2 separate regions of the Homo sapiens genome follow, and region 1 is linked to region 2. The links come from fine-mapping of genetic effects on gene expression. A gene starts in region 2. The other region holds a variant in brackets. All regions are shown on one strand. Distances are between the middles of the regions.

Evidence for each region.
Region 1: its variant is fine-mapped to the expression of GRAP2 in whole blood (INTERVAL, PIP above 0.99).

What each region holds. Positions count from the first base shown.
Region 1 is chr22:39,974,069-39,983,427 of GRCh38, reverse strand. No RefSeq gene overlaps it. Among named protein-coding and RNA genes, the nearest start is that of FAM83F, 16 kb to the left of the region's middle. The variant T/C (reference allele first, on the strand shown) is at 3,729.
Region 2 is chr22:39,895,921-39,905,279 of GRCh38, reverse strand. It overlaps GRAP2 (GRB2 related adaptor protein 2), which reads right to left and starts at 4,196. Exons shown (of 8, transcript NM_004810.4): 1 at 3,950-4,196.

The DNA.
Region 1 (9,359 bases), 78 kb before region 2:
GCTGGATCTCAGAATGAAAGAAGGAACAAATAGCAGACCCAAGAGGCTTATGCAGTGGCCCATATTGGAGGAGTCAGGATGGGTCCCAGCAACCTAGAGAGGGCTGGGCCTGTGCCATGGCTCCATCTGGGGCAGAAGGACCAGCAGAGCCCAAGAACTGGGAGACCCTGTCTGAAAGGACATCATGCTTTAGCAAGCTGGGTGTTTTAGGGACACACATTGCATCCTAAGTTTTTTTTTTAGGAAGCCTCGGTTCAGAAGAGGACCTAGGGAGCCCCAGGACTTGTGAATATTGATGTCAGAAGTGAAATTTCTCCTAGCAGAAGGGAGAATCTCTATAACTTTTTTTTTTTTTTTGAGGTGCAATCTTGCTCTGTTGCCCAGGCTGGAGTGCAGTGGCACGATCTCGGCTCACTGCAATCTCCACCTCCCAGGTTCAAGCAATTCTCCTGTCTCAGCCTCCCAAGTAGTTGGGATTACAGGTGCCCCCCACCATGCCTGGCTAATTTTTGTATTTTTAGTAGAGACAGGGTTTCACCATCTTGGTCAGGCTGGTCTTGAACTCCTGACTTTAGGTGATCCGCCTGCCTTGACCTCCCAAAGTACTGGGATTACAGGTGTGAGCCACTGCGCCCGGCCAATTTTTTTTTTTTTTTTTTTTTTTTTTTTTTTTTTTTTTTTTTTTTTTTTAGACAGGGTCTTGCTCTGTCGCCCAGGCTGGAGTGCAGTGGCGCCATCTCGACTCCTTGCAGCCTCCACCTCCCAGGTTCAAGCAATTCTCCCACCTCAGCCTCCAGGGTAGCTGGGATTACAGGGGCCCACCACCATGCCCGGCTAATTTTTGCTTTGTTTTGTTTTGTTTTGGGATGAAGTTTCACTCTCGTTGACCAGGCTGGAGTGCAATGGTGTGATCTCAGCTCACTGCAACCTCCATCTCCTGGATTCAAGTGATTCTCCTGCCTCAGCCTTCCAAGTAGCTGGGATTACAGGCGCCCGCCACCATGCCCAGCTAATTTTCACATTTTTAGTAGAGACGGGTTTCATCATGTTGGCCAGGCTGGTCTCAAACTCCTGACCTCAGGTGATCCACCTACCTCAGCCTCCCAAAGTGCTGGGATTATAGGCATGAGCCACCATGCCCAGCCAATTTTTGCATTTTTAGTAGAGACGGGACTTCACCATGTTGGCCAAGCTGGTCTTGAACTCCTGACCTCAGGGGATCTACCCGCCTCGGCCTCCCAAAGTGCTGGGATTACAGGTGTGAGCCACTGCGCCTGGCCTATAGCTTTTATTTATCCTAATAGAGACACAAGCTTGCTAGTTTCTCTATTTTTTTAAAGAAAAAACTTTTTTGTTTTTGTTTTTTTAGACAGAGTCTCGGTCTGTCGCCCAGGCTGGAGTGCAGTGGTGCAATCTCGGTTCACTGCAACCTCTGCCTCCCAGGTTCAAGGGATTCTCCTGCCTCAGCCTCCTGAGTAGTTGGGATTACAGGCGTGTGCCACCACGCCCAGCTAATTTTTGTATTTTTAGTAGAGATGGGGTTTCACCGTGTTGGTCAGGCTGGTCTCAAATTCCTGACCTCATGATCTGCCTGCCTCAGCCTCCCAAAGTGCTGGGATTACAGGCATGAGCCACCACGCCTGGCCTTTTGTTTTGTTTTGTTTTGTTTTTGTTTTTTAAGATAGGGTCTTGCTCTGTCACTCAGGCTGAGTGTGGTGGCACAATCATAGCTCACTGCAGTCTCAAACTCCTGAGCTCGAGTGATCCTACTACCTCTGCGTCTGGAGTAGCTGGGACTACAGGCAGGTGCCTGTATGTACCACACCTAGCTAATTTAAAAAAAAAAAATTGAGGGCCGGGCGCTGTGGCTCATGCCTGTAATCTCAGGACTTTGGGAGGCTGAGGCAGGCAGATCACTTGAGGTCAGGAGTTCGAGACCAGCCTGGCCAACATGGTGAAACCTGTCTCTACTAAAAATACAAAAATTAGCTGGGTGTGGTGGCACATGCTTGTAATCCCAGCTACTAGGGAGGCTGAGGCATGAGAATCGCTTGAACCCGGGAGGCGGAGGTTGCAGCGAGTGGAGATCACGTCACTGTACTCCAGCCTCGGTGACAGAGTGAAACTCTGTCTCAAAAAAAAAAAAAATGTTTTTTGTAGAGACAGAGTCTTGCTATGTTGCCCAGGCTAAGACATAAACTTAATGCATTCCTTTTCTGCACCCATCTTGAGTCACTCCTTGCCGAAGAGGTGTCTGAGGATCAGTGCTCACTGAGGGTATGCCATCCACATGCATCAGTGGTTTAGAGCAAGAAGTGACCCAGCCTTTCCTTCATTTTACTAGGAGGAAACTGAGGCCCAGAGGGGTTGAGAGACTCCCCTTAGGTCCAGGGGCTCAGGAGAGAGTGGGGACAGAATCCCAGCTGCAGACCCCCCAGCCAGTGCTCCCTTCCTCTGTGCCCCCCCACCCATCTGGACTTTCCATGGTAACTAAGCCTCCTCCAGTGTGGGAAGCAGTTACCTAGCAACTTCCCATAACCAGGTTAGAGCCGAGGGAGTGAGATACCACATGCTGCCTGCCCTGGGGAATTTAGATGTGTAGAAATGGGATCGCCCACGTCATAGTGTGGCCACAAATGACCCTGCATAGAGCCATGCCTGGAAGCCCCTGTCGGGGAGAGTCTCACATCAGGATCAGTGAGTCTCAGGGATGACGGCACAGTCCTGGGCTGGCTGAGGCGTCCACCCCTGCAGTGGATGCAGGGCCCCACTGTGTACAGTGCTGGTTTCTCTGAACAGCATGGAACCTGTCCCCATTGACCTGCTGGCTCAGTGTGGATGGGGGATCCACAGAGGAAGGCTGATGGAAAGGCTGTGTCTGTGTCCTTGCAGGCGTCTCACTGTGGCGGGGGGAATGGCAGGGAAGCTGTGCTCCTTCATGCTGCCTCTTGTTCCCTAATTATGTCAAGAAATGTTTATGAAATGACATGATTGTAAAGTAAGTGACTCTTCCTGTAATGTTCCCTGTATATTGGGTTTTGACAACCATCCGCCACCCCCACACGCTCACCTGCTTCTTCCTGTGGGCAGAGCCCTGCCTAGGTTCCCAGGTTCTGCCTCCTGAAGGGTCCTACCAATTGGCCTAAGCCAGTTATGGTGGCCTCATTCTCTTGGAAATGGCTGGTGTAAGAACAGCATGGGATCCAGTCTTGCCAGTGGGATCTGTGTGAATGGCCGCTGAAGGACCTCCAGGAAGGAAAGGGTTTCTCATTGAGTAGAATTGGGAGAGAATGTGCCCCTTCTCCATTAGACATTGTCACGTCTGCATGTGATGTCTGGAGCTGTAAGCCACTGAGAAGAGACACCACTGATGCTCAGAGACATCACTGATGCATTGTTGGGCCATTGTGTTAAGCCAGCCAATGGCTGTCTTGTCTCTGGACTTCTTGTGATGGGAAATCATGAGCCTCTTGTTGCTCTAGAGCCTTTTGGTCAGGCCTCTGTTTTTTTCGCCTCCAGCTCACTCACTTTGCACTTGTCTGAGTGGGCCACTTAATAGAGATGCCTTGACAAGTCTTGGTATTAAAGGTAAAGCACCCAAAGAAAACAAATGTCCCATATCTTCGATTTACTGACTAAATCAAAGATGGGACTCCCTGATCCTTTATCTCCTCAGTTGGAATTGAAATCCGACTAGCAGCTGCATGCCCAGCTCTCGCAGGTCTGAA[T/C]AGACTTCTCCCTAAAGAGCCTGATGGCGTCCCTGGTATTCCCAGCATCTGGCACATTTCTTTCATTCATTCATTCATTCATTCATTCATTCACTCATTCACTCACTCACTCATGCGGTGGTGTGCTGGGGCTGGCTCCTATCTGCCCATGAAAAACAATTGTGTACATCTCTTCCCAACTCTGGATTCAGTGATGTCATGTTGGTAGCCTGAAATCTGCCATGGTGGGAGTTGTTCTTTTTTAAGTAGACTTTTTTTTTTCAGCAGTTTTAGGATCACAGCAAAATGGAACAGAAGACACAGGGAGTTCCCAAATACCCCCTGTCCCCACACACGCATAGCCTCCCTCACTGTCAACATCCTCCAGCAGAGTGATATATTTGTTACAATTGTTGAGCCTACATTGACACACCATAATCACCCGAAATGCGTAGTTTACATTAGGGTTCACTCTTCCTGTTGTGCATCCTATGGGTTTTGAAAAATGTGTCATGCCATGTGTCTATTGTTGTGGCATCACACAGAGGAGTTTCACTGCCCTAAAAATCCTCCGGGCTCTGCGTATTCATGCCTCCCACCCTCAACCCTTCCAACCACTGATCTTTTTACCGCCTCTCTAGTTTTTCCTTTTCCAGCATGCCATGTAGTTGAAACGGTACAGTGTGTAGCCTTTTCATATTGGCTTATTTCACATAGTAATATGCATTTAAGGGTTGGGTGCAGCATCGCATGCCTGTAATACCATCACTTTGGGAGGCTGAGGTGGGCAGATCACCTTAGGTCAGGAGTTCAAAACCAGTCTGGCCAACATGGTGAAACCCCGTCTCTACTAAAAAAAAAAAAAAAATTCAGCCAAGCGTGGTGACGGGCGCCTGTAATCCCAGCTACTTGGGAGGCAGAGGCAGGAGATTTGCTTGAACCAGGGAGGTGGAGGTTGCAGTGAGCTGAGATTACACCACTGCACTCCAGCCTGGGTGACAGAGTGAAACTCCATCTTAATAATAATAATAATAATAATAATAATAATAATAATATGCATTTAAGGGTTTTCATCTTTCATAGCTTGGTAGCTTATTTCTTTCTAAATACTATTCTATTGTCTGGAGGTACCACAGTTTATTTATTCATTCACCTATTGTAGGACATTTTGGTTTCTTCTAAGTTTTGGCAATTATGAATAAAGCCACTATAAATATCCATGTCCAGGTCTTTGTGTGGATGTTTTCAGCACCTTTCAGTAAATACCAAGGAGTGTGAATGCTGGATCCTATGACCAGCGTAAGTTTAGTTTTGCAAGAAACCGTCGAACTCTCTTCCAAAGTAGCTGTACCATTTTGCCTTCCCACCATCAATGAATGAGAGTTCCTGTTGTTTCACATCATCACCAGCATATGGTGTTGTCAGTATTATAGATATGGGGCATTCTTATAGGTGTGTGGTGATATTTCATTGTTTTAATTTGTATTTTCCTAATGACATATGATATTGAGCATCTTTTTATCTCCTCACTTGCCATCTATATCTTCTTCCATGAGCTGTCCATGTCTTTTGCCCATTTTTAAATTGGGTTGTTCATCTTCTAATTGTGGAGTTTTTTTGTTGTTGTTGTTGGTTTTTTTTGTTTCTTACTTTCTTTCTTTCTTTCTTTCTTTTTTTGAGATGGAGTCTTGCTCTGTTGCCCAGGCTAGAGCGAAGTGGCAGGAACTTGGCTCACTGCAACCTCCACCTCCCGGGTTCAAACAATTTTCCTGCATCAGCCTCCCAAGTAGCTGGGATTACAGGTGCCCGCCACCAAACCCGGCTAATTTTTGTATTTTTAGTAGAGACGGGATTTCACCATCTTGGCCAGGCTGGTCTCAAACTCCTGACCTCATGATCCACCTGCCTCGGCCTCCCAAAGTGCTGGGATTACAGGCGTGAGCCACTGTGCCCTGCCTATTGTTGAGTTTTAAGAGTTCTTTGTGTATCATAGTCCTTTATCAGATATGTCTTCTGTACATATTTTCTCCTGGTCTGTGACTTGTCTTCTCATTCTCTTGGCATATGGTGGGAGTGTTTACACCATAGAATTGGCAAATACCACAAGTTAGGGCTTCTTCTTAGAGAGAGCCAATTATTAAATCTTTACCAGCACGTCACTGCATCTAGGCATCAACCATTTATTGACTGCACTGCATATCTTTGACCTAAAAAAGATTTGGTCTAGCAGAGGAGGCAGATCAGTGAATCACTGACAATGGTGTTCTGAGTATTGGGATAGAGGGAGAACAAGGTTACTACAGGAACATAAGTGGGGGTGGGGGAACGGGGGCACTTACATCAACCATAATATTGGGATGGTTTCCCAGTGGAGACCTGGAGCCCTGAGCTAATGATTTCAAAGTAAGTAACAGTTGTCTGGACCCACGCTGCCCTATAAGGCAGCTCTTTGCCACATGTGGCAATTTCAGTCATTTATACCAGGCATATTTCAAGTATTCAATAGCCACATGTGGCTAGTGGCTAGTGGCTACCACATTGGATGGAGCAGATACAGAGCTTTTCCCTCATCACAGAAAGTCCTAATAGACAGCCCTTGTCTAGACAAAACAGTGGGAGAAAGCATTCCAGGCAAAAAGAACAGAATGTAGGAGACCAGAGGTCTTAGAAAACATGCCTCATTCTGGGAACCACAGATAGTTCTAAGGGACTGAAGTAAAGAGTGTTTGGGACTGGAGAGGTAGAAGATGTGGCTGAACGAACAAGGCAGCAGGCAGATCACAAAAGGCCTTTAGTGCGAAGCTAAGGAGGTTAAACTCCAGCCTGAAGACTATGGAGAACCCAAAGATTTGAGCAGGAGCTTGGTATCATCAGCCTGTCTGCGAATAAGATCTCCCTGACTGCGTTGGAGGCTGTATTACAGGGGGCCAGCCAGAAAGGCAGGGAGACGAGTGCTGAGACTATTGCAGTCATCAGGGAAAGAAGTGAGAGAGGTTTGAAGTAAGGCAGTGGCTGTGGAATGGGTGCAGAGAAGGGACAGAGTTGAGAGAATGTGAAGGACCCGATGGCTGATTGTGTCTGACCCTGAAGAGGTGCTTTGTAAATATTTGTTGACTTAATGAATGAATTACAGCAAAACTTAAAACAATAGAAGTGAGTGCACAGCTACTAGGCTTCTAGGTAGTATCTACTGCACAAATGGTGTGGTGCAGAGGACACCCTTGCCTTGGTATGGACAGGCTGAAGTGTTGACTTTAGACTGAGAAAACAGCAAATATTTTGACCATGCTAATCAGTCCCCAGTGTGGGCTGTTGTGTTTCAGGTTAGCTGTGAGCTAACGATGGCATGTAGGTACATTCCCCTTCTTTTGAGCTCAAGGAGAAAGAGGCAACAGGGAAGAGTGAGAAGAGAGAGACGGAGGGAAGGGTTGGTATCCCTTGTTCTGTCTGATGGAGGGAGGGCTCGGCTGAGAAGAGAGCCAGCTGTGCTCATGGAAGATGCTGAGGGAGCCAGGGTCCAAGCAGTGCCTCTCAGAATTGGGCACAGGCTGGCCATTCTCCCCTCTACCTCTTCCCCAATCTCCTTGTCATGTGGACTGCAGGGCAGATTTGGTGTCCTGAAGGATTGGGTCAATTCACCAGCAGATAAATGTGGTGCATAGTGGATCCGCAGCATCTGGGAAGGCATTGTCAGCAGAGGATGCGTGGGGCAACAGAACACTGGAACCAGAGTAGGAAGCGTGAGTATACTGGTGCCTAAACACGTGAGAGATAACAGCCTCCCTCTCTTGGCCTCTCAGAAGTTAACTGGAGGAGAATCCGAAGACAGTGGCTAAAGCTACTGGAACCTGGACATCATTGTAAATATGACCTTGTTTGCATCTACAGGTCTGTTAGGCCCAAGACAGTTGAGTTACAAAATGAGTAAATAGATGAGATGAAGCAGGTCCAATCATTCCTTCATTAGAAAAATATTTACTGAGCCTCTGTGTGCCTTGCATAGTGCTAGATGCTGGGTGTACAATGGTTTACAAAACAGAGGTGACCCCTGCTCCGTGGAGCTTACAGCTCCAAGTTCACTTGAACTTGGGAGGCAGAGGCTGCAGTGAGCTGTAATAGCCATACAGCTCAGTCTGGCACCATCATCTGTGTACGTGCTATTCAGGAAAAGCACAGGATTCATAAGACCATCTTAGGGGAAGGATTATTTTAGATTAGAGGGCAGGGGAGGACTGTTTGGAAGTGACATTTAAACCCAGACCTGGGCCAGGCATGGTGGCTCACACCTATATTCCCATCACTTTGGGAAGCCAGGGTGAGTGGATCACCTGAGGTCAGGAGTTCAAGACCACCCTGGCCAACATGGTGAAACCCTGTCTCTACCAAAAATGCAAAAATTAGCCAGGTGTGGTGACATGACCCTGTAATCCCAGCTACTCGGGAGGCTGAGGTGGGAGAATCACTTGAACTTGGGAGGCAGAGGCTGCAGTGAGCTGAGACTGTGCCACTGCACTCCAGCCTGGGCAACAGAGCCAGACCCCATCTCAAAACAAAAACAAAAACAAAAACAAAAACAAAAACAAAAAACAAAAAACAGAAAACAAAAAACCAACCCAGACCTGGAGATGAACAAGAGTTAGCAGGGTTAGCAGGGGATGTGCCTCCAGGTAGCAAGAATGGCAAGTGTGAAAGGTTTGGGGACAAATCCTTGGCCATTTGGAGGCTGAAAGGCCAGTGGGGCAGGAGCATAAAAGCAAGGGGCAGGGGAGGCAGAAGAGGAGGCTGAGGAGGGAGGCAGGGGCCGGACTTCACAGGGCCACATTAGGACTTTGGACTTAAGCCTAAATCCAGTGGGAAGGGGAGTGATGTGATCGGATTTATTTTTACAAAGATCGCTTTGGCATCTGTGTGGAGGACCAGATTACGGGAGAGAATGCAGGGAGAAAGGTATGAAAGCTGACAGTTGCCAAAGGAAGAGATGATGGTGGCATGGCCAAGGTGATGGAGTAAAGTGGAGGAACTGAGGAGGCATTTTTTAAAAAGCATTGAGACAATCAAGGTTTTTCTCACACACTTGCCTTGGTATAGAGGGGCTAAAATGTTGGCTTAGACAAGGCAAACAGTAAATATTTTGGCCATGCTAATCTGTCCCGAGTGTGGGCTGTTGTGTTTTAGGTTAGCTGGGAGCACAGTCCCCTGCCTCAACCAGGGCCACATCTGACCAGAGTCAATTTTATGACTGAAGATTTCCTGACAAAGCTTTTACAACTTCTGCAATCTCTGCTGATGTTTAAAATAATTACTATTAGGAAATAGTAATTATTATAGGAAATTCCTGTTTGCATTTCATCTGAATTCCTCTCACATTACATTTTTTTAATTCTAGAGATAAGGATGCTAAAATAATAAGTCACCTGGGTAGCCAAATATGAATGACGTCATAATGACCGTTCTGAATTGCATCTGTCCCAAAGCCAAAGTGACCTATTCGTTAGCAGCGAAGAAAAAATGGCCGAATATCCTCAGAAGAAGAGCCCAATTAGAGTTGTGCTCACTGCTAAGTTCTTTGCCTTTGCTCCTTAACATGTGGACCTAGCAACAGCACCCAGTAGCTTGTTAGAAATTCAGGACCAAGTTGGAAGCTGCATTTCA
Region 2 (9,359 bases):
AAATATATATGAACTCCAATGAAATAATCAATTTAGGCAAAGATTATTACCTAAAGTCACCGGGTGAGAGTTTGTTGGGAAATAGGATATTGCCACCATGCCAAAGTGTTTATGAGATACACTTTGAGATACCCCCTGAGAGTACTCGCTAATTGCAAAGGGTGAAAAAGTGCCTGTACAACAAGAGATCCTCTGAGCAAGATCACTACCTCAAGCCCTGATCAAACTTGGCATCATGCACAGTGGAACAACCTGGCATTCTGTACCTCCTGATAAGATGCAATATGGAGCACCCAGTGGCACCTTGCAAAAAACGTTCAATCAAAATCAAATCATGCTTTTAGTCCTAACTTGGAGCTTATGAGAAATAAAGTGGGTAGAGGAACAAATTAACCATGAGGCAACAACGAATTCAGAAAGTGGGACCTGGTACAAGAGAACTGGCGTAATCTTTAAAAACATCCAATGTTGAAGAAAGAAGCATGAGACCCAACTGCAAAATATGTTCTTATTTTTAAAAATTAGATTCTTTTTTTAAAAAATGGTATAGAAGACATTTGGGGGACAAATGGGGAAGGTTAAATCTGCACTAGCTATCAGATGATATTAAGGACTTACTGTTTATCCTCTTAGGCCTAATGATGGAATTGTGGTTAGATAGAGGAATGCCTTTATTCTTAGATGAGTACTGAATTATTTAGGAGTGAAGTATTATTTTATCTGCAACTTACAAGTAATTCAGAAAGAAATAGGTATAGATGGAGCAAATACGGCAAAGAGTTAGCAATTGTTGAACCTAGGTAGTGAGTACTAATATTTCAACTTTTCTTTATGTTTTATGTTCAGTTATTTTCTCACTATCTTTTCTTTTCTTTTCTTTTTTCCTCTTTTTGAGACAGGATCTTGCTCTGTCGACCAGGCTGGAGTGCAGTGGCACGATCTCAGCTCGCTGAAACATCTGCCTCCCGGGTTCAAGCAATTCTCGTGCCTCAGTCTCCCAAGTAGCTGGGATTACAGGCGCCTGCCATCATGCCCGGCTAATTTTTGTATTTTGGTAGAGACAGGGTTTCAACATGTTGGCCAGGCTTGTCTCCAACTCCTGACCTCAGATGATCTGCCTGCTTTGGCCGCCCAAGTGCTGGGATTACAGGTGTGAGCCACTGTGCCCGGCTGTTCTTCACTATCTCCTTAAGGTATGTCTTAACATTTTCTTTGGAGAGTATATAAGACTTTTATCATCATGCACTTCGTGATAGTTTCTTTTAATTCTCTAAAATTTTTGTTTATAAATACATATTTAAAAAGAAAACAATCTTTAAAAATTATTTACTGAATTCCTACTGACTCAAGTTTATTGAAACTTAATGTTAACACTGTTGAAGAGGACTTGGTGCCTAGTGCCAGGCCTGGCATATAGTAATTGATCGATAAATGTTTGTAAAATGCTTATTTGTTAAACAGGACCATGCTTTCTTAAGAATTTTTAAGAGAAAAGAAAGGGCAGGCCAGGTGTAGTGGTTCACACCTGTAATCCCAACACTTTGGGAGGCTGAGGCAGGCGAATCGCTTGAGTTCAGGAGTTCAAGACCAGCCTGGGAAACATGGCAAAACCCTGTCTCTACTAAAAATACAATATTAGCCAGGTGTGGTGGTGTGTACCTGTAGTCTCAGCTACTTGAGAGGCTGAGGTGGGAGGATCACTAAACCCAGGGTAGTTGAGGCTGCAGTGAGCTGTGATTGTGCCACTGTACTCCAGCCTGAGTGACAGAGTGAGACCCTGTCTCAAAAAAAAAAAAAAAAAAAAGACTCATGAGGCTGTGTTATTATCATTATTATTATTTATTTTTGGAGATCTGCCCACCTCGGCCTCCCAAAGTGCTAGGATTATAAGCATGAGCCACCGCGCCCAGCCAAGGCTGTGCTATTTCTTTACAGACCAAGGTATGCTGGGCAAATACCTCAAATGGACAAAATGGGGACCTAGCGACCCTATTGTTTGATTCAAACAACTTATAAAGATTCTTTAACAAGTTTTGAGTTTGTTTGATAGGGGCACAAAAATGAATCATCTGCCCCCAGGATTATCCAGCAGCAACTGTTACTTATTTAAGAAATCGTGATGGAATCACACTTACTGACACATTTTCGAACAATTGCAGACTTTTCTTGACCCAGGAAAAAAGGGCAAGTTCTACTCAAGCTTAGGCATGAACCCTGTCAGTCATCAACACCAGTGGGTGTTATTATCTGGGAATCAATAAATATGTTGGAACTAGGATCATTTTCAGCTCTTCTAGGAAGCAATAGTTCTAAAAGAGATGGCTTCAGGAAATAAGTGAGAGACATTTTGTATAAGAAGTGGGAAGAAAATGATCAAGAGTCAAAGAAACAACTAATCATGATATCGCCTTGCATTTTTATAGAGCCTTTTTCCTAAGGCACTTCATATCTATGTTAACTCATTTATTCTTACAACATCCCTACGAGGTAGACAGAACAATTGAAAGGGATTTTCACCAGGGCCTAAGATGTGGGAGATATTCAAAAGGATATTGTATTAGCAACAGAGATATTTCTTCATATTGAATAGATTGATCATCTCCTTCTCCTCTGCTTCAGTAAAGTCATTTTTAAAAAGATAAAATCTATTACAATTTGGGGAGAATAAGATTTCAGTTTACCACATGGGAGACACTCCAAGTTCAATCTAAAAAAGCAGTTTTATTCAATAATATAGGGCCACCTCTCTTTTACAAAAAAACAAAAAAGGGTATGAGTCAGATTTTTTTCGTATTTGAAAATTAAATATACTTAGGTGGTCCTCTATTTACACAGTGTTCCTTATTTAATAGCAGATGGTTTTGTAAAGAGAATCACTATAAAATTATTCTATAAAGTTTTACATAAAATACTGGATTGTTAAAGGAGAGTAACTTCTGCTAAATACTCTTTCCGAAACCAAAAATAAGAAACAAAAAGGAGCCACTAAAGAACTAAACCGTTTATGACAAACATTGCTGCATAGAACAAAAGATTCTGCGACCTGAAGTTTCCCATCCTCAGATAACATAACGAGAACACACGAAATTTTTCCCATTGGATGTTTAGATCTAAAACACTTCCCACTCCTAGTTTATCTAGGGATGTGTATGTTCAATAGTGTGCAAATTATGCTGCATACACTTTATTAAGAAGGCCTAATTCCAGGTAGATAAATACGGTAAATTTTTTTTGACAGTATACCTGTCAGGGCAATACAGTACATTTTAAATTAGTGAAACCTTTGGTTGGTATGTTCAATCCTCACGTTCAGGAAGAGTTGGGACAAAGAACACAAAGCAGCTATCTTCAGACTGGACGCCTAAACCAGAGACAGTCATAGGGATGGAGCCTAACGGCTAGTACGAAGAGAGACAATACCCTTCCAAAATACACTTCAACATAAAGTTTTCTTTTCGTAAAGGAATGAAAACTGGTGTCCTTTGTACAGGTAACAAAAATGCGAACAGAACTAGAAATTCAAGCAAAGAGAGAAATCCTGACCTCAGAGTGCTAGTGTTCATTCATCACTGCTCAGCCCTCTACCACCCCCTCCAATCCCTTCCAATTTGGATTAAATTCTGACCATGGTGAAGTGGAATTTTACCTCCATGATCCCAAGGTCGAAAATCTTTCCCTGAGATGCTTCTGAAGCCAGTTTGTGGAGATTTTTGTGTTATGGACTGGGTAAGGAACAAGTGTTCTCCCAGTTCATTTGATAGAAGTCAAATCCCATCACCACAAACATTGTCACAGCAAAAGGTTTAGAGACCTTAGCTGATGGGACTTAAAAGCAATATTTAGAGAACTAGTGAGATTCATTTTAATTAACTCATACAGAACATTCTGCAAATTATAAAACTGTTCAAAGTTTCTAGAGTATATGTACAGATGTTGTATAATGACATACCTTTTGGAAGAGAAGGGGTTGAGTTTATGTCTTGGCTTTGACACCGAGTTATTAGAATCCTTTCTGGCAAGAAGGGAGACAAATTCAAGCATCAGAGTTACTGCATTTCAGAGTATGGATCCACTTTGTGCTGTCTTCCATGTACCACTCTGAAAGAGGGTGCAAGTTTACAGATCCATTAACTGTGCCTCCTCCTCCCCACCTCTTACTCCCTCCTCCAAACTAACCCTAGTCAGCCCTGCAGTCTGTAGGCAAACCACACAGGAACTAGCACATATGGGGCTTCGGAGAGTTGGGCGTGAGCCTTAGATTATGTGGTTTTGTTTTCTTGCTGCCAGAGTTGAACTAAAATGCAGGAGGTTCACTGAAACACTTTTGCTTCTTTATGCTTGGTTTCAGTTTTAACAATATCCCCCCTGAACACTTGTGTTCACATAAGAAAATTTATAGTTCTTGATATGGTCCATCAGCAAGCTGATCTTAAGGAAAACTCTTATTCTCTTAGTATAATCATGCATCCAGAGGAACATTAGGGCTTCTTGGGGGAACTTATTTAAGAGCACCCTCGATCACTCACAATGTTAAAATCCCAGGAAAGATGCTTTGTTCATACACTCAGCCTCTAATATTACTCTTGACAAAAAAAGAAGAAACATTCTGAGCTGGGATGCATTCTCACCCCAGGTTTGCCACAGTCCAGCATGAGGTGGAACCAGTTCCTTCAATTTCTGGGACTTCAATTTCTGTTGAGTCTTAGACTGAAGGCTTTCTGGGATTTAAGACTTTCCATTGACCTTGAGTTTTGTTACCTTCAACTTCCTTAGTTCTTACCTTTAAATGTACCACTCACCCTTCCCCCTATATCAACTGCAACTTGTGAAGGCCTCTTCCTTTCTCTTTGCTCTTGCTAGAAAATGGATTGCCAACGTTGCATCTTTTACAGAAAATTAGAGACATTGCTACTTGCTAAGTGGCACCATTCAGAGTTTGGGGACTGGATCCAAGATGAGGAGGGAAATGTTGGCTCACTGGGATGTTCCTAGCATTAATCCCTGGAATACCAAGAGGAGAGTGTCAAGGAGAGATTCAATTTGGGGTTCTAAAATTTAAACTTTTTCTGCAATGTGAAACGGCATCCTTTTCCATCTCTTTGCTTCTTTATATCTAAACCTTGCTTAAAATTTACTTTCTTAAAACCTTTTCCTTGGTTATAATTGCCCAACATTTTTATTGAAATAGAAAAGAAGAATCAGCAAAGTGTCAAGGTGACAGAAAATGCTCAGTAAATATTTGTCGAATGAGTTAAAGGAAGTAATTTTCTATCCATAACTCCTTTTTTTTTTTGAGACGGAGTTTCACTCTTCTTGCCCAGGCTGGAGTGCAATGGCATGATCTTGGCTCACTGCAACCTCCGTCTCCCGAGTACAAGTGATTCTCTTGCTTCAGCCTCCCAAGTAGCTGGGATTACAGGTACCTGCCACCATGCCTGGCTAATTTTTTTTGTATTTTTAGTAGAGATGGGGTTTCACCATGTCGGCCAGGCTGGTCTTGAACTCCTGAACTCAGATGATCCGCCCGCCTCAACCTCCCAAAGTGCTGGGATTACAGGCATGAGCCACCGCACCCGGCCCTGTAGCTCCTTAATAACAGGCTTTCTTTTTATTAATGCAACTTTGTCAAATTTTCTTAAATCCTGGTTATATCTGAAAAGGATCTCTGCTATTTCCACATTATAAAGATAAAATTTAAAAATAACAACATCTTGCTACTTTAAAAATAATAACGTCTCAACCTTGACCTCAGAATTATTCAGCCTTCTAAGGACCTTCTTGGATCATTACACTGAACAGCTCTATTGCCAAGTTTTTAAATGCTGAAATCCTCTGGCTACAGTCCTTATTCTTTGATAGCTCCCAAGTCGATGGTTTTGAAATGGTTAAAGGAGTCCCTAAAATTCTATGGTTGGGGAGTGGGAGCGAAGGGAAAATGTTGAATGGTGTTACATGGAAAGTATCATGGTGTTTTCAGCTTGTACCCTAATGAGGAAGCTAATTTTGCACCAGGCACTACTCCCCAGGGAGCAGAATATAATCCTTCCCCTTACAAGCATGGGACAGATTGCAGAACAGAAAAATCTCAAAGGCAAGTTATTTTGGTAGTAAGTACTGATTGACAGACATGTTATGTAGAGCATAGTGGGAGGGAAGCAAGGCCACTTGAGTGGTTTATTTCATAACAGCTCTGTAACTGAACGAGTGCAAAGGCAGATCCTAAGAATAAAGACCCTAATGTGAGAATGCCAGCATTTCAGTACTCACTATCATGAGATACTCAGAAAAATAGCAGCAAGATGAGGAGGATACAGTAACATGTGAAATATGGACTTAGCCACAGTGGAGAAGTTTCTTTTTTAAACCATACTTTGTTTAAAATTTTTTTAATCAATTCCTTTTGAGGGGTCATTTGTTTATATCTGAACTTCTGTTTTGTTTTGTTTTTTGTTTTATTTTGTTTTTTGGAGACTGAGTCTCGCTCGGTTGCCCAGGCTAGAGTACAGTGACGCAATCTTGGCTCACTGCAACCTCCACCTCCTAAGTTCAAATGATTCTCCTGCCTCAGCCTCCCGAGTAGCTGGGATTGCAGGCACCTGCCACCACACCCAGCTAATTTGTATATTTTTAGGACAGCTGAGGTTTCGCCATGTTGGTCAGGCTGGTCTCGAACTCCTGACCTCAGGTGATCTGCCCACCTTGGCCCCCCAAAGTGCTGGGATTACAGGCATGAGCCACTGCGCCTGGCCAATATCTGAACTTCTTGCCATAATTATGCTCAATTTAACTTTATGGTAAAATATGTACTTCTTATTTAATAGTGTGCATTCAGACATTCTCGTTTCATTTATTCAATAAATAAAGTTTGAACACCTACTCTGTGTTAGTCCTGTTCTAGGTGCTGGAAAACTATCAGTGAACAAAACATAATCTCTGCCCTCCTGGATCTTACATTCTGGTAAAGGGAGAAACAGAAGGTACATCAGATGGTCCTACTGTTAGGGAGAAAAATAAAATGATGCAAGAGCCACAGGGAGTGTGGCTGAGATGGGGGTTGCGATTTTACGTTGGGAAATCAAAGGACATTTGAGCAAAGTCTAGAACAAAGTGAAGAAGCCAGTACTTCCTGGATGGACATCTGGGGAAATAGCTTTTGCAGGTATAGGGACTAGCAAGTGCAAAGACTTCAGGTGGAGACATGTTTAACACTGTGAGTGAGGTGGAGAGGAGTTGGGATGGAGATCAGAGAGAGAGCAGAACATGTAGGGCCTTGTTGCCATGGCGAGGCCTTTGGATTTTACTCTGAGTGAGATGGAAGCCAATGGAAGATTTTGAACTGGGGAGTAGTATGATCTGACTTGGGTTTTAAGTTTTAAAAGGGTAGCTCTGGCTGTTGTGCTGAAATTAGATAGCAAGGGAGCAAGAACAGAAGAAGAGAGACCAGTTAGGAGCCTACTGTTGGCCAGGCATGGTTGGCTCATGCCTGTAATCCCAGCACTTTGGGAGACTGAGGCGGATGGATCACCTGAGGTCGGGAGTTTGAGACCATCCTGATCAACATGGAGAAACCCAATTTCTACTAAAAATACAAAATTAGCCAGGCATGGTGGCGCATGCCTGTAATCCCAGCTACTAGGGAGGCTGAGGCAGAAGAATCGCTTGAACCCGGGAGGCGGAGGTTGCAGTGAGCCGAGATTGCGCCATTGCACTCCAGCCTGGGCAATAAGAGCAAAACTCCATCTCAAAAAAAAAAAAAAAAAAAAAGAGGCTACTTTCATAGTCCAGACCAGAGATGGTTGTGGCTTAAAACAGGATGATGTGAGTGGTGGGAAGTGGTTGGATTTTGAATATACAGGGTGATCATAAAGTCTAGAAACATAGATAATGTTATTGTATCTTGTATTAGAATGTAGCATCAATAAATCATTTATTATCTAGACTGGGTAGCCACCTTGTATTTCAAAGGTAAGCTCATGGATATCATGAGAGCTATAAGAGACAAACACAGGAGTTAAGGTGACTCCCAGGTTCATGGCCTGAGAACCTAGAAGCAAGGATGTGTCATTTACTGAGACAGGAGAGACCGTGGGAGAGAAGGTTTGGAAGGCAAGACCAGGAGTAGAGGTCAAGGTAGTTAGATACACGAGTTTGGAGGTCAGGAGAAGCTGAAGAGAAAACCTTGAGAGTTGTCAGAATCGAAGAGTATTTACCGCTTTGCAAGTGGATAACACTACCTGTGGAGTGAATATAGATAGAGAAGACAAGAGGTTAGAGAATGGGCTCCTTCAAAGTTGAGAGGTCATAGAATTGAGAACGGATGAGTCAAGGAGATGAGAAGGAGAAATGGTGTCCGGGAAGTCAGGTGAAGCAAACTGTGTTCACTTTTATAGAACCTCAAGTTCAAAAAATTAAAGGAGAAAACCAACCAAGCTACCATAGAGCAATATTTGTATTTAGTGGATGTTACGGTATTGCAACTAAATTGTGCCCCCAAATGGAGGAAAGCAGATAAGAAGGACCCCTTACATATTGTCACTTGAACAGGGTTAATTCCACTAAGCTGGTAACACTTGACACTTTTGCCAAGCCTAACCAACTCCCTCACTGTTTATTGGGACTTCAGTCTTTAATCTTACCCTGTCTCCTACTTCCCATCTGCCTCCTCAATCACCTTCTATATGCTGACTACTCTGAAGTCTATGAACCTAGCCCCAAACCCTCTTCTTTCAGTTATCTCTATTCAACTGTCCCCTGAACATCTCCCACCTGTTGCTCAGATTCAAAATGTCCGAAGCAGAATTCCCCAGCTTTCCTGCCAAACTGACCCCTCGGATCATGTTCATCTTGGTGAACAGCAACAGTCATTTACTTGGTCACCCCAAAAAGAAACTTAGTCCCTGTAGACTCCTCCTTCTCTCTCATTGCCACATATATTCAGAGCCCGATCCCATAACTGCTACACTTTAACATTACATGTAAAAGTATATGTGTGAGGAGAGTGAACAGAGTGGAGATTCACACTATGCCCATGACCTCTGCCTTAGTTATGGCCTTCATCACTTATTGCCTGAACTATCAGAACATTCTGTTCTTCTTCCAGTTCCTCTGCTTCCAATCTACTCTTTGAGCACACACAGAGATTTTAAAAGGAGAAAATGAATGAATTTAAAAATAAAAAATTGGAATCTCTGACCTTCTCCAAACATAACAAGTCCACTTGTGACTGAGTTGCTGATAGAGCTTAAAATCAAGGACCAAAGATTGGTCCTTGGAGTAGGGGAAAGAGCTAGACACAGGAGATTTGGGTTCAAGTTTCAGGTAAACTGCTTCCTAGTTAAATATCTCTGGGCAATTACTGT